Homo sapiens: one gene and its partners. The protein of the gene in region 4 interacts with the protein of the main gene of each other region in a biochemical or structural test. Each region holds a gene or a part of one and is shown on either strand. Other genes may lie near its edges.

Evidence for each region.
Region 1: the proteins of EZR (region 4) and SELL form a complex in vitro, tested with the Homo sapiens proteins (one study listed by BioGRID).
Region 2: the proteins of EZR (region 4) and SDC2 form a complex in vitro, tested with the Homo sapiens proteins (one study listed by BioGRID).
Region 3: the proteins of EZR (region 4) and ICAM3 form a complex in vitro, tested with the Homo sapiens proteins (2 studies listed by BioGRID).

What each region holds. Positions count from the first base shown.
Region 1 is NC_000001.11:169,701,621-169,705,120, reverse strand, and holds part of SELL (L-selectin precursor), read left to right. Parts: intron 1-367; coding exon 368-553; intron 554-1,680; coding exon 1,681-1,866; intron 1,867-3,432; coding exon 3,433-3,500. UniProt on the Homo sapiens protein: Calcium-dependent lectin that mediates cell adhesion by binding to glycoproteins on neighboring cells. Mediates the adherence of lymphocytes to endothelial cells of high endothelial venules in peripheral lymph nodes.
Region 2 is NC_000008.11:96,601,813-96,605,312, reverse strand, and holds part of SDC2 (syndecan-2 precursor), read right to left. Parts: intron 2,919-3,500; coding exon 2,785-2,918; intron 1-2,784. UniProt on the Homo sapiens protein: Cell surface proteoglycan which regulates dendritic arbor morphogenesis.
Region 3 is NC_000019.10:10,336,825-10,340,792, reverse strand, and holds the start of ICAM3 (intercellular adhesion molecule 3 isoform 1 precursor), read left to right. Parts: upstream 1-1,168; 5' UTR 1,169-1,178; coding exon 1,179-1,254; intron 1,255-1,547; exon of another isoform or gene 1,548-1,844; coding exon 1,845-2,111; intron 2,112-3,968. UniProt on the Homo sapiens protein: ICAM proteins are ligands for the leukocyte adhesion protein LFA-1 (integrin alpha-L/beta-2). ICAM3 is also a ligand for integrin alpha-D/beta-2. In association with integrin alpha-L/beta-2, contributes to apoptotic neutrophil phagocytosis by macrophages.
Region 4 is NC_000006.12:158,777,869-158,781,368, forward strand, and holds part of EZR (ezrin), read right to left. Parts: intron 1-3,500. UniProt on the Homo sapiens protein: Probably involved in connections of major cytoskeletal structures to the plasma membrane. In epithelial cells, required for the formation of microvilli and membrane ruffles on the apical pole. Along with PLEKHG6, required for normal macropinocytosis.

The DNA of each region.
Region 1 (3,500 bases), on a different chromosome or scaffold from region 4:
GATAGTTATTTCCCGACTAAGCTGGTCATTCCCAGTTACACCTATTTGGCTTTAAGGATTCTCACTACAGATAATGCTGAAGATAATAATATGAAGACTAGCTAATGTTTACTTAGAATTTCTGATGAGTCAGGCTTTGTTCTAAGGTCCTTGACTTATGCTAATTGAATTACATTTAGTTTCCATATCAATTTGATAAAGATAACACAATTTCATTATTCCTCTTATATAGATGAAGAAACTGAAGTTGGAGGGTTCAAGTAACCTTGTTTAAAGGCACATGGTTATCAAGTGGCAGGGCTAGGATTCAAATCCAGGCGTCAGTTCCTCTTAACTCTTCCCCATACTGTTTCTTTCCCTATTGAAGTGATTCAGTGTGAGCCTTTGGAGGCCCCAGAGCTGGGTACCATGGACTGTACTCACCCTTTGGGAAACTTCAGCTTCAGCTCACAGTGTGCCTTCAGCTGCTCTGAAGGAACAAACTTAACTGGGATTGAAGAAACCACCTGTGGACCATTTGGAAACTGGTCATCTCCAGAACCAACCTGTCAAGGTGAGTAACTTCAGACTAGAGGTTTTGTCATGCAATCCTGGGCTTACAGTCAGAACATTCAGTAGAAGTTTGCTGAGAAGTCAAACTTAGGAGCCTAATTTAACCTAACTTTGTTTAACCTACTGTGATGTTTCTCAAAGGACTTATTCTAACTAAATTTTTTTGAAAAACCTCCCAAACAAAAAGTAAAAACCAAATACCCCTGAAGCCATCTCCCAGTGTGTAACATGACTTATAGCAATACAGCATGGTTATACTGTGTTTTTTATTTTTCTCATTGCCATTGCATAAATAATGTCTTGTTGAACCTCAGTTACATTTTGGTTCTTCTCCTCTCAATAACACCTGTTTTATGTGGTGTCCTACTTAATACCAACCAGTTTCCTTCCCAGGGTAGTGGAGGTCTTTCTTGGTTGTTTTATTTGGCTTATTCTTAAAATCACTTTTACTTTTCCTCATGCATAAACTTTTAGGAGAATAACAACTGAAAAACAAAAACACAATCTCTTGATCTTTTCAAGTTTGAAATAAGGTAGGTTTTTTTTTTTTTTTCATTTTTAACTGCCAACCTTATCTCCATATGGGAGAAAACCAATGTCATCTGAACTTACGAAGTTTTGGTTAACTTTTCTACAAGTATGCTCCTGATGCATTAGTTTAAGTAGTTTAATTCTTAGAAGTGCTATCAAAATCCCTTATTGAAATTATAAAACTGTCAACCCACCTACTGGAATTTACGGAAGTTGGACTTGCTTCAGTGAATTGGGATGTTTTTCAAAATGCTTGGGTAGATATCAGAACAGATGAAACGGCAGAGATTCTCTGAGAATATCCCATAAGAGCCCTTGATGCAGAGGCCATATGGCATGGTACTTCCAGCAGAAGGGGAGGGTCACCTTAGCTAGGGCAGCAGCCTGGAGTAGCTACTCCTCTCCCCACAGCTTTCAATGCTTCCTTGCCTTCATCTCTCATTCACCACCCACCATCATTCTCAAGAAAATAAAGCCTGGAAGCAATATCACAAGTAATGTAGTCAGGCAGCTTTGGCTAAAAATCCTTTGCTCAAGGGAGGGTCTCTACTCAGAAATACTGTTTTGTCTTTTTTTTTTTTTTCTTTTTCATTGAAGTGATTCAGTGTGAGCCTCTATCAGCACCAGATTTGGGGATCATGAACTGTAGCCATCCCCTGGCCAGCTTCAGCTTTACCTCTGCATGTACCTTCATCTGCTCAGAAGGAACTGAGTTAATTGGGAAGAAGAAAACCATTTGTGAATCATCTGGAATCTGGTCAAATCCTAGTCCAATATGTCAAAGTGAGTAAGTTTGTCCTGGAAAACTGAAATCTTAACGATGGAGCTGATGGATGAGCAGATATGAGGAAAGACATACATAAACATTTACATGTTGTTTTGCTAAGAATATGTGGCCTAGAAATAAATTTGTATGCTTAACTCACTGTAAAATCTTTGGCTGGTCTTTCCTCCTCCTTTAATGACAATCATTTCCTTTTTTTGTTCTCACCTCTTGCCATCTTAACTCCTAAAATCTGAACTCACTGATTTACTTTTTACCCATTCTTCTATTCCACTACAATCTAACATCTCTGTTAGCCCATTGAAATGCCTGTAAAAGGTCACTAATGACCACCTACTTCCCCAAATAATGGATACTCCTGAATCATCACTAAGCTAATGCCTCCAAAATCTATCTGTATATGAGAAGAATCATGTCTTGTTCATCTTTGTATACCCTCCACCTGACACAGTGCCTGGCAATAGGTGCTAAAGCAAATGCATGTTAAGCTAGCATGTGAAAGAATAGCTACCTGTGTCTGCTCCTGAGACTATCTGCATGGATGACAAAAGTCTTTAAATGGTAGGATCTACAGAAGCTGTCAGAAATGCTGATCTCTGTGTGCTGCGTGCCCAGGGCCAGGGAGTAGAGTGGATGAGCAGAGAGAGGCAGGGAGGCCTTTAGCAGAGGACTGTGTATTAGGCCTATCAGAGACATTTCCCTTTAAGGCCTAGCTAGTGTTCATTTCCTCCTCATCTTCATCAAGCCAACAGGTACCTTCTGTCTGGAGCTCCTGGGAACTTGAGCCTTCTCTCAATCATATATTTGGGTGTGGGGATCAAATCACCTTGAAAAGGTTCATCAAAGTAATGGGAAGAACTAAGGATAGAATCAGACCCTCTGCCAATATGTAAAAAAGTAGATTCCTTCAAATGTTAGTATCAGGAGACAGATTTTTTTTTATACCAGTATTTTCAAATAGAGGCTCCCAAATGAACTTAGTTTACACTTACAAGAGTATCTCTAAACATGCCCTTTTACTTATTCGTGAAGGAAGTAGAGGGAAGTGGTAACTACTGCATTGGAAAGAAATTAGTGCAGGTCCTTGGCATGTAAAAATCAAGTGCTTATTTTTGCACAACTGCTTTAAAGTAAAAGCATTAATGATTTCCTTTGACTGGTGAATTATCCAGTTCAGATCATTGGCTTTTATTTTTCCTGAAGTTGTATTAGGCTTTTAGCTCTTCTCTGTGTTTCAGAGTTCCAGTCATTGAACAAGTCCATGGAGCTAAATACAACGATGACCATTCTTGCCAACATTTTTAGGTGCATTTTCAGGAACTCTATGAACCACAAATCTGGGCATTGAGATTCTGTAGGCATTAGACTAGCAAGGCTGGTCCAGTCTTTGCCTATGCTGTAGACTCATCAGGGGCCTTCCCATGCCAGTTTCCTCATCTGTCAAATGGCATCAAATGGGCTACTACTGGGAGATGTAAGGAGGAAAAAAGTCAAATATCATGAGATAGACTAAGGAAATAATGCTGGTGGTCTCATGCTATGTGCCTTACTGATTTCTCTTTCAGAATTGGACAAAAGTTTCTCAATGATTAAGGAGGGTGATTATAACCCCCTCTTCATTCCAGTGGCAGTC
Region 2 (3,500 bases), on a different chromosome or scaffold from region 4:
AAATAGGTGAATACTCAGGTTTGTGACTAGGGAGAGAGGTAAACAAGTTCTGGTGAGAAATGAAATGGACCTAAGTAGTTACTGTAATATGAGAGACTGAGTTTAATTCATCCATATCCATATCATCTTTGTCCCATTATTATTACAAATCATATGGTTTCACCATGTGATTGAGTCCCTAAAGTCATTTAAGAGAGTTGATCTTTTCAGTTTCCTCTGACTCAGCCTCTGATCCGGCAGGCTGAACAAAGCGTGCAATCCAGGGATCTGAGAGTGTGGGAACTGAAGGACTCCACAGAACTGGAGCCGCCCTGCAGCTGGAGGTGCACAAGCCTCAAGCGGCTCTGGGTGGAAAATTCATTTTTTAAGTCAAAATGTTTTATCGTATGGAAGCAAAGGCTTGACTAAGAAGATACCATTTGGTAATATGGAACTAATCTGAAATACCTTCACTCTTGTATGAATGTATGTGCAAAATGAATCCGCAAAAAGACAGCAGGGATGATTAAATGAGGCCAAGTAAAGATCTGCCACATCCATGTCTGGTTGTTTGGATGCCATGGAAATGCAACAGAAGTAAAAGCTTATGAGTGATGCTCTTCTCAAACAAATAACGAGATTCCCTTTTGTGCATTTTAGTCACTTAAATTTACAACAAACTAGATAGGATATCCGTAACAGTGACATTAATGCCACTGTGAGACCAATTGAAAAGCAAAATCTACACTAATGGTATCCTAGAGGCAATGTTCAATTCGGCTGTACCACATAAACAGCAAAATGAAAAATTTAATCATTATTATTCATGTTATTCATGATCAATATTATCATTATCAGTGCTGCAAACAGTGTTCGACACATAATGAATAGCACTCAACAAATCTCCTATAAATGGATGAATTTCTACTATTACTATATTGAACACAAATGATAGTAAGAATATAAATGTATTAAAATCTTTTGGGCTCCTTAATTTTTAAATTCACCTGCCAAAGTTCTACATTTTTTATCTCGATCTGATGCAATTACTTCCTTAAAACCAATTTTTAAAAACTTAAATTAGTGGTCAATCCATTGCTGTTAACAAACCAGACAGAACTCTATGTCAAATTAAGTCTTGCTTAGGATAGAACTCTCTATCACTACAAGCCAAAACTCACCCAGGAGAGTTGCTTCCCTCAAGCTAGTGAGTCCTAATTGTCTCTGACTTCAGCAGATTTAGTCAAGAGAAGTGGTCAAATAAAAATGTGGTAAGAGCCAAATGCATCTTTAGTAAATAGTAGCTAATTGTGCCACACACACTCTGAGGCAGTCATCGTACCACCAATTGCACCTGCACTTTTCATTTCTCCCTTTCTTTTTTTGTTTCATTCACTCAACTGAAACATTGATACAGTAGCTTTTATGCATGGATCCAGCACATGCCAGGTGAGTCGGTCTCAGTTCTCATAGGGCTCTCCCTGCCTTCCTACCGCCTGGCTTGTGAAGTCTACCACTAATAGTAATTGACCCTTCTTGGTCCTACAGAAAGCACTTCAATTTGGACAGGGCTGGCTTCCTGGCTGTTCCACATCTGCAGAAACCCATCCAGCGGTGCCATTCACCATTCCAGTCACAGGCACTGGGAGGATGGAGGAGGAGGAAGAACAAAGGTACTCTGGGGCAAGGGTAAGAAAAGCCCACATGCATTCTGGCCTGAAGACGGGATGATTCTTACTCCAAGGAAGGCCTGTCGCCACCTTCATCAAACAGCCTTCCATATCCATACCCTGTCTGCTGCTAAAGCTTGGCAGCATCTCATTTCTAATCAACAGATGGGTGAGCTCTAAAAGGGGATGCTTGTGCTTCTGAGTTTTCTTAAGCCATATGTTACCCCTGCACTGATTGCAAAGTCTACCACTACAGTTATTACACATGCTCATTTGGTGAATTGGCTTGGTCTCTTCTGCTCCACCAATTCAATTAATGCTTACAGAATGGTGACTAGGTCTCAGGTGCCATGCTACATGCACTCACATTTCATCTTCTTCAAGGCCCATAGGAAATGGGTTCAGAAGCTAAGAAACCTGACTGGATCCAGGATTTGAAACTTAGGTCTTTGCCAGACTTTAATATGCATGTTCTAACTTCAGTGGGTTACCTATTAGTGGATGGTCAGCTAACTGCAATATTAACGAGGTCAAAATCACAAGCTCCAAGTTTTCATTAGCTGGTCACTTTACTCAGGTCTAAGGCCAAAGACCTTATTCTTAATAAGTCAGCTCTCAAAATGAATATATACAGATGTACCCAGGTTCATCATCATCGAGAGAGGTCAAGGATTACATAGTACTGATGGTCGGCCTAGGAAGACTGAGAAATGACTTAGTGAGACTAGGACCACCTCAAGACGTGACCTGGAGTCTTCTAATTACGTAACCTACAAACCAGGAAACCAAAGAAACAGGGCTTTACTTCTTAACTGGGCTTCAGACGTTCCTTAAGAAGGAGGGCCATGTGAAAAATAGTTGTATATAATTTGAGCCTGGATGACAGAGATTATAAGTGGGTAAATGCCAAAATGATCAAAAAGAGTAAGGAAGAGCCATTTATAACACCACCTGAAGACCATTTGTCCTTACACAATTTTAAGTGGGGTCTTTTAAAAGAACTGTTGTGTACATAGTTCATGATGGGTAGCTCCAAAAAGAAGAAAATAATACAAAAGGGACTGTTGTGTACAGTCAGTAAAGTGAAGCATTTGTAATAACCTGATAATGCAATGCAATGGAAAATAGAACGCACCTTTGTCTGAGCAGGTATCTTGTTCTGTATATTCAGCGTCGTGGTTTCCACTTTTGGAGCAGCACTAGTCAACAGTATCTTTGGAAGTGGTCGAGATGTTGTCAGCTCTGGACTCTCTACATCCTCATCAGCTCCTGGAAAAGTAAGTGAAGATGAACTGAGCATGGCAATCATGACACAGATGTCTCCATTATCAGGCACTATTGCCTGACGTTGACACTGACAGAATCATGTTCTTTCAAAATGCTGGCTCTTTAAGACTTCAGCACAAAGCTTCCTGTGGTCTTCACCATGATGAAGAAGTGATTTCAAAGGTGTCTGTGGGTAGTCTAGCAAGTTTTTCCTTAATAGTATTATCCTGAACATTCAAGTAGCCCTTCTTTCACTTGCATGTTCCTTTTCTCCCTGCTTGACAAGATTTTTTCCCATCTACACTGAAACGTGCTCCATTTCCATTTTAAGAACACAACAGTCCAGGTGCAGGGGCTCACGCCTGTAATTTCAGCACTTTGGGAGGCCGAGGAGAGCGGATCACGAGGTCAGGAGATCGAGACCAGCCTGGCCTATATGGTGAAACCTCATCTCTACTAAAAATTCAAAAATTTAGCTGGGCGTGGCGGCGCACGCCTGTAATCCCAGCTACTCGGGAGGCTGAGGCAGGAGAATCACTTGAACCTGGAGGTGGAGGTTGCAGTGAGCAGAGGTCACACCATTGC
Region 3 (3,968 bases), on a different chromosome or scaffold from region 4:
GTCAGAGGCAGGTCAAAGGTGGGGGTCCCACCTGGTCCCCTTGGCGCCTTCCCTTGGAATGCAGTGACCAGCTGCCTGGAAGGGTGGGCAAGGGGACAACAGGATGGGGTAAAGGCCAGTTACAAGTAGAATCCTGGAAGGCCGGGCGCAGTGGCTCACGCCTGTAATCCCAACACTTTGGGAGGCCAAGGCGGGCAGCTCACTTGAGGTCAGAAGTTTGAGACCAGCTTGGCCAACATGGTGAAACCCCGTCTCTACCAAAAAGTACAAAAATTAGCCGGGCGTGGTGGCACATGCCTGTAATCCCAGCTACTCGGGAGGCTGAGGCAGGAAAATCGTTTGAACCCGGGAGGCAGAGGCTGCAGTGAGCCGAGATCCCGCCACTGCACTCCAACCTGGGTGACAGAGTGAGACTCTGTCTCAAAACAAACAAACAAAAACCAAGTAGAATCCTGGATAGACAGTGGCTCAGGGACTCAGCTGTCCCCAAATCACCTACCTTAGCTCTTTGTGCAGGGGATGGGGGATCCCCAAGATCTTCAAAGATAGGGAGGTATCCTCAAGATCTTCAAAGGTGGCCAGGCGTGGTGGCTCACGCCTGTAATCGCAACACTTTGGGAGGTCAAGATGAGAGGAGGCCATCTTAAGGCCAGGAGTTCAAGACCAGTCGGGGCAACATAGCAAGACTCTGCTTCTGTTTCTGTTTTTGTTTTTGTTTTTTAATGTTTCCTCGAAATCCCACCTTAACATCTACACAATGGTGCCTACAGTTTTCCCCATTAACTTCCTCTCTGGGGACAGAATATTCCCCTACCCACCTAAGTTCAGCCAGAAGGAGATGCCTCATCCCCCCCACCCAGGCTTCCCAGTGCTGAGAACAAAAGAAACCAGTTTAGTTAGCATTTCCTGTGAATTCAAATGGGGGCCAGCAGTGCAACTGGGACCAGCCCATTCCCTGGGGGAGACTCAGCAGTGCTGGCCACTTTGCAGAGCCCCGTCTGGGTCCCCCACCCTGGCCCCCAAGGGCCACAGCATCCCCTTCCACCCACAGGCCTGGGCAAGGTGCAGTCCCCAGACTTCTGCAATCTTAACCGCTGTGCTTCCGTCGCAGTGGGAGGCCCCGCCTTTTCCCCTGCCTGCCCTTCGGGCACCTCAGGAAGGCACCTTCCTCTGTCAGAATGGCCACCATGGTACCATCCGTGTTGTGGCCCAGGGCCTGCTGGACTCTGCTGGTCTGCTGTCTGCTGACCCCAGGTGAGACCAGTCAAGCCGGGGAGGGCTGGAGAGGGCTGCGTTTTGGGGATCAGTAGAGGGTAGAGGAATAGAACGCAACGCTGTTCACATCCTGCCACACTGCGACCTGGCCGCTGACTCTGTATCCTCGGGAGAAAGTTCTGGTTCCTTAGTTCAGCCTTCAGGTGGTCAGGCCCCAGCATAGGCTTGTACGCCATCCCTCTCCCCTAACACACACACACACACCCCTCATGCTTCCTGCTCCATCTGAACTCCTGAAATTTGCCCTTTGCGTATGTGCTTCCCTCTGCCAGGATCACCTGTCCCTTTCACTTGCTAACTCCTACTTAGCCTTCAGTTTCGGGCTGCAATGGTCCCCGCTTCCAGGAAGCCTTCCCTGACTCACCTCCTCCTATGCTGGATCAGAGCCTCTTCTGGCCTCCTTCTGAGTTCTCCCCGGTCTCTGATGGATTCTACCTTTCCCACTGGACCATGAAGGCAGGAACCCTTCTGTCTCGGCACAAGGAGAGAGGTGTTAAATGGTGGGGCCTGTTGATGCGTGGGTTGGGGGACAAGGAAACAAACACCAGGACTTCTTCATGTTCCTGAAGGTGTCCAGGGGCAGGAGTTCCTTTTGCGGGTGGAGCCCCAGAACCCTGTGCTCTCTGCTGGAGGGTCCCTGTTTGTGAACTGCAGTACTGATTGTCCCAGCTCTGAGAAAATCGCCTTGGAGACGTCCCTATCAAAGGAGCTGGTGGCCAGTGGCATGGGCTGGGCAGCCTTCAATCTCAGCAACGTGACTGGCAACAGTCGGATCCTCTGCTCAGTGTACTGCAATGGCTCTCAGATAACAGGCTCCTCTAACATCACCGTGTACAGTGAGTCGACGTGTCCGGAGGTGGGACTGGTCTTGGGTAGTGGTGTGGGCAAGTGGCCAATGGCTCAGGAGAGTGGGGACCCTCAGTTTGCAAAGAATGGACCACAGTTCTGACCCAGAGCTCAGACCTGGACATTTGTGTGTGAGATACAAAGATAGACAGAGACAGAGACACAGAGACAGAGACAGAGATATAGAGACGCATCTCAATCTCATGCCAAGGCAGCAGTTGTGAAATCAATTAACTTGGGCCCCAACAAGCATTTTTTTTTTTTTTTTGAGACAGAGTTTCGCTCTTTTTGCCTAGGCTGGAGTGCAGTGGCACGATGTCGGCTCACTGCAACCTTCGCCTCCTGGGTTCAAGTGATTCTCCTGCCTCAGCCTCCCGAGTGGCTGAGATTACACATGCACGCCACCACACCCAGCAAATTTTGTATTTTTAGTTGAGATGGCATTTCACCATGTTGGCCAGTCTGGTCTTGAACTCCTGACCTCAGGCGATCCGCCCACCTCAGCCTCCCAAAGTGCTGGGATTACAGGCATGGGCCACTGCGCCCGGCCCCAACAAGCTTTTTTTTTTTTTTGAGATGGCGTCTCTTACTCTGTAGCCCAGGCTGGAGTGCAGTGGTGCAATCTCGGCTCACTGCGACCTCTGCCTCCCAGGTCCAGCTAATGCCCAGCTAAGTTTTGTATTTTTAGTAGAGACGGGGTGTTCCGCCCACATCAGCCTCTCAAAGTGCTGGGATTACAAGTGTGAGCCACTGCGCCTGGCCCCAACAATAATCCCAACACTTTGGGAGGCCAAGGCAGGAGGATTGCTTGAGTCCGGAAATTTAAGACCAGGCAGAGCAATATAGGGACACCCCGTCTCTACAAAAATAAATAAAAAATATTAGCTGGGCATGGTGGCACATGCCTGAAGTCCCAGCTACTTGGGGGACCAAGGTGGGAGAATCGCTTGAGCCCAGGAGTTCAAGGCTGTAGTGAGCTATAATTGCACCACTGCACTCCAGCCTGTGCAAAAAAGCAAGACCCTTGTCTCTTAAGCAAAAAAGGGGGTACCCCTTTCAGTCAGCAGTAGGCAAATGGAGGTTTTACATTTACACTTTTTTATACCTTTATTTTAGAGACAGGATCTCCCTATGTTGCCTAGGTTGGTCTCAAACTCCTGGGCTCAGGCAATCCTCCCACTTCAGTCTCTCCAGTAGCTGGGATTGCAGGCCTGGCTACTTTTTTTTTTCTTTTCTTTTCTTTTTTTTTTTTTTTGAGACAGAGTCTCACTCTGTCCCCCAGGCTAGAGTGCAGTGGCGCAATCTTGGCTCACTGCAACCTCTGCCTTCCGGGTTCAAGCGATTCTCCTGCCTCAGCCTCCTGAGTAGCTGGGATTACAGGCGCATGCCAACACGCCCAGCTAATTTTTGTATTTTTAGTAGGGACAGGATTTCACCATGTTGCCCAGGCTGGTCTCAAACTCCTGGCCTCAAATGATCTGCCCGCCTTGGCCTCCCAAAGTGCTGGGATTATAAGCGTGAGCCACCATGCCTGGCCTACTTTTTGACTTTTCTTTTCTTTGAGACGCAGTCTTGCTATTGTCCCCCATGCTGGAGTACAATGGCGCGATGTCAGCTCATTGCAACCTCCGCCTCCTGGGTTCAAGTGATTCTCCTGTCTTAGCCTCCTTAGTAGCTGGGATTACAGGCGTGTGACACCATGCCCGGCTAATTTTTGTATTTTTAGTAGAGACAGGGTTTTGCCATATGGGCCAGGTTGGTCTCAAACTCCTGACCTCAAGTGATCCGCCTCCCTCGGCCTCCCAAAGTGGTGGGATTACAGGCATGAGTCACCTTGCCCAGCCTTT
Region 4 (3,500 bases):
TCCTTTCTTTTACAGTGCTATGCTCTAGAATCACCAATCCCCATTAAAAAAAAACACACCTGGCATTCAAACAGACATGCAATGAGTTTGTTCTTTTATCTTCGAGATGTAATTTTCTTTACAGGTTTCAGAGCATTAAAGGGGAACTCCAGATACCACCTTGCCCTGCTACTGACTTCAGCCTATGTCCTCCTTACATTGAAAGGCTGTGAAAGTGGCACCAGGTAGGCATGTGTTGCTTCTGGAGCACTTTCTCCCAAAACACAAGAGCAGCCTGCTGGCACCAACAGAGAAGCTAGGATCCAAGCTCCGGAGGCTCCGCCCACAGCACATAGCACTGTGAGCCAGCGTGCCGCATCCTGAAACTTCAAGGGGCTGGGATCCCCTCTCCGGCTCCTGTCTCTACACAGGACTCTCAAAACAGGTTCTGACCTTAGAAAATTTAGGCCTCCGGCTCTCTGGTGTGCCTAGAAAGTTTTTCCTCTTAGGACTTTGAAACCTCATATAACAATTCATAGCCACTCATAAGCATAACTGCAGTATCAAAACAAAAAGGTTAAACATGAAAATTATGACTCACTTTTGAGTTAAAGAACTTTTAATTCTTGACCAAAGTTGGAAAATTAAAGCCCAAGGATTTCCTTTTTCCTAAGAGATCACATATAGGACATGAACAGGGTCTACAGAGAAGGTGGCCACAGGGTTTATAAGTGTCCTTGCTTAGGCCACACATTAAAAAAGCGTGATTCTCCAATAACAGGGACCAGACAGAGGCCTTTGGAGAAATGGCTGATTCCAGGACTAGAACAGGGAACACAAAGGATGAACCTGGTGCATCTCGAGGAGCCAGGCAGCAAGGAAGCCTGCAAAGAATGCAGGGCTCACACTTCAAGGTGCTCCTAAAGGCCAAATCTCAAACAACCTGAGCAAGAAGATACATACTCATAGATCATAACCCAAAGACCGAAACACATATCCATGAGTCCATATTAATATAACTGAATAAATGGAGAACAGAAATTGGCTCCTTATAGAATTCCAATTAATACACGTAAAAAGTTTTTAAAAATCACAATTTCTCAAATACCACAGTAATCTCATCAATGGTAGCTAGAACTAGGACATCTACATAGTTTAAAATTATCTCCCCCAAATATACTGACCAATTGTAAAGGGAAGGATAGTGATTTTACAGTGGAGAAACGTGGCAGACACCACCTTAACTAATAATCAAAATTAGCACCACCTAAGATAAGATATACCGACCACATGTGCCACCTTGAAAGAGGTCCTGGAAGGGCAAAACAGCACTTTATTCTTACCAAAAATGTAAAACTCCAAATAATGAGAAAACACCAGACAATCCAAGCTGAAGGGCTTTCCAAAGTCAATGGCCAGTACTCTTCAAAAATACCAAGGTCATGACAAAAAAAGACTGGAACTATCCCACATCGAAGGAGACAGGGAGGTCTGACAACTAACTGTGTGGCTCCAGAGAGGGTCCCGGGGCAGAAATAGGACATCAGTGAGACAACTGATTAAAATGGGAATGAGGTCTAGAGACTGCTAATGTTAATTTTCTTATCTTGGTATTTGGACTACGGTTACATAAGGTGTTAATGTTTGAGGAAGCTAAGTGAAGGGTATATGGGAATTATTTGTACTATTTTTAGAATCTTTTTAAAGTTTGAAATAATATATATATTTTAAATTGAGATGGGGTCTTACTCTGTCACCCAGGCTAGAGTGCAGTGGCACAATCTTGGCTCACTGCAGCCTCCGCCTCCCGGGCTCAAGTGATCCTCCCACCTCAGCCTCCCAAGTAGCTAGGACCACAGGCATGCACCACCACGCCCAGCTAATTTTTTGTACTTTTGGTGGAGACGGGGTTTTGCCATGTTGGCAAAGACCAGCCCAGGCTGGTCTTGAACTCCTGAGCTCAAGGGATCTACCTGTTTTAGCCTCCCAAAGTGCTGGGATTACAGGTATGAGCCACCATGCCCAGCCTGAAATGACTTTAAAATGCAAGAATGGGCCAGGCATGGTGGCTTACACCTGTATCCCAGCACTTTGGGAAGCCAAGGTGGGCAGATCATTTGAGGTCAGGAGTTTGAGACCAGCCTGGCCAACACAGTGAAACCCCATCTCTACTAAAAATACAAAAATTAGCCAGGAGTGGTGGCATGTGCCTGTAATCCTGGCTACTCGGGAGGCTGAGGCAGGAGAACCGCTTGAACCCAGGAGGCAGAGGTTACAGTGAGCTGAGAATGTGCCATTGCACTCCACCCTGGGTGACACAGTGAGATTCCATATCAAAAAAAAAAAAAAAACCAAGAATGATTAAAAAATGTAAATCCAAAATATGTAGCTGAGTGTGATAATGTTCTACATGTCTTAAGATTTTGCATTTTTCAGGCATATTTGTCAGAACTCAACAAATGAACACTTAAGATTACATTTCATTGTATTTAAATTTTACATCAAAAGAACAAAACATAACCAACCTCTAGTATATCATATGCACTTTCATTTTGAGGAAGGATATGGATGCCTGCAGTTTTCTTGGAAATGTGTTAGAGGGCCAGAGGGTGACAGTGGAGTGCATACGGAAAGAGACGTGAGAAAGCAAGCGAAGCCCTGAGTACCTATCCGCAAGGAATTTAAAGAAGAGACATGTTCTGTGGCTCCTGTTTCAGTCCCCAAGCTCCCCGTGCACCCTTTCCCTTTAAGGTGGAAGCCCTGGACCTAGTGCATTTCCAGAAACTCCTACCTACAGAAGGACTTCTATGATGAAATCTGCCCAAAGAGGGATGAAGCTAAGGGAGAAAAAGTGCTTTTACAGGACTAAAGATCAGGTTCCTCTAGTTTTTGTTAGTTTTTGTTTTTGGTCCGAGTGTCAGGTTTCAAATTGTAACCCAGCTAAACTGAACTTCCTCTGTTCACAAGCTTACAATGCCTGTCAGGAGGGCGCTTACCTGTTTTTGCCCTCTTTATACTCCCACCTATTCCAAGCTAAGGGTTTAAAGAAAGATGACAAATAGTCCTACATGCTCCCACTTAATGCTTATGTGTACAATGAAAAGGGAACCCCAAGAGACAGATTTCCCAGCCAGACCCTATTTAATACTAAAACAGGTGTTTTAATAGAGACTTTACTTGCAGAGTATAAATCTCTTAGAGCTCAATTTCCATATTCAATAGATCAGCTTTCTCACCTGAACAATGTTTCAGGCATATCTAATTCTCCTAGTTCTACCGAGAGAGGTAACAGCGCAACAGCTGGCGAGTTCTCAGCACTCCTCAGACTTCAGGACAGTCTCCTGCTTATGCTGCTACCAAGTTGTCAATATTTGTTCAAAAGGGAAAGAATTTGGGCCTATTAAATGACTGAATATCTACATAAATGCTTTTTTCATGAAGAGAGGGGTGTGCCTTCAGGAATGGGGAGAAGAGAGGCAGAAAGTGAGCCTGCCCAACACCCCAGCATGCTCTGTGGGGAA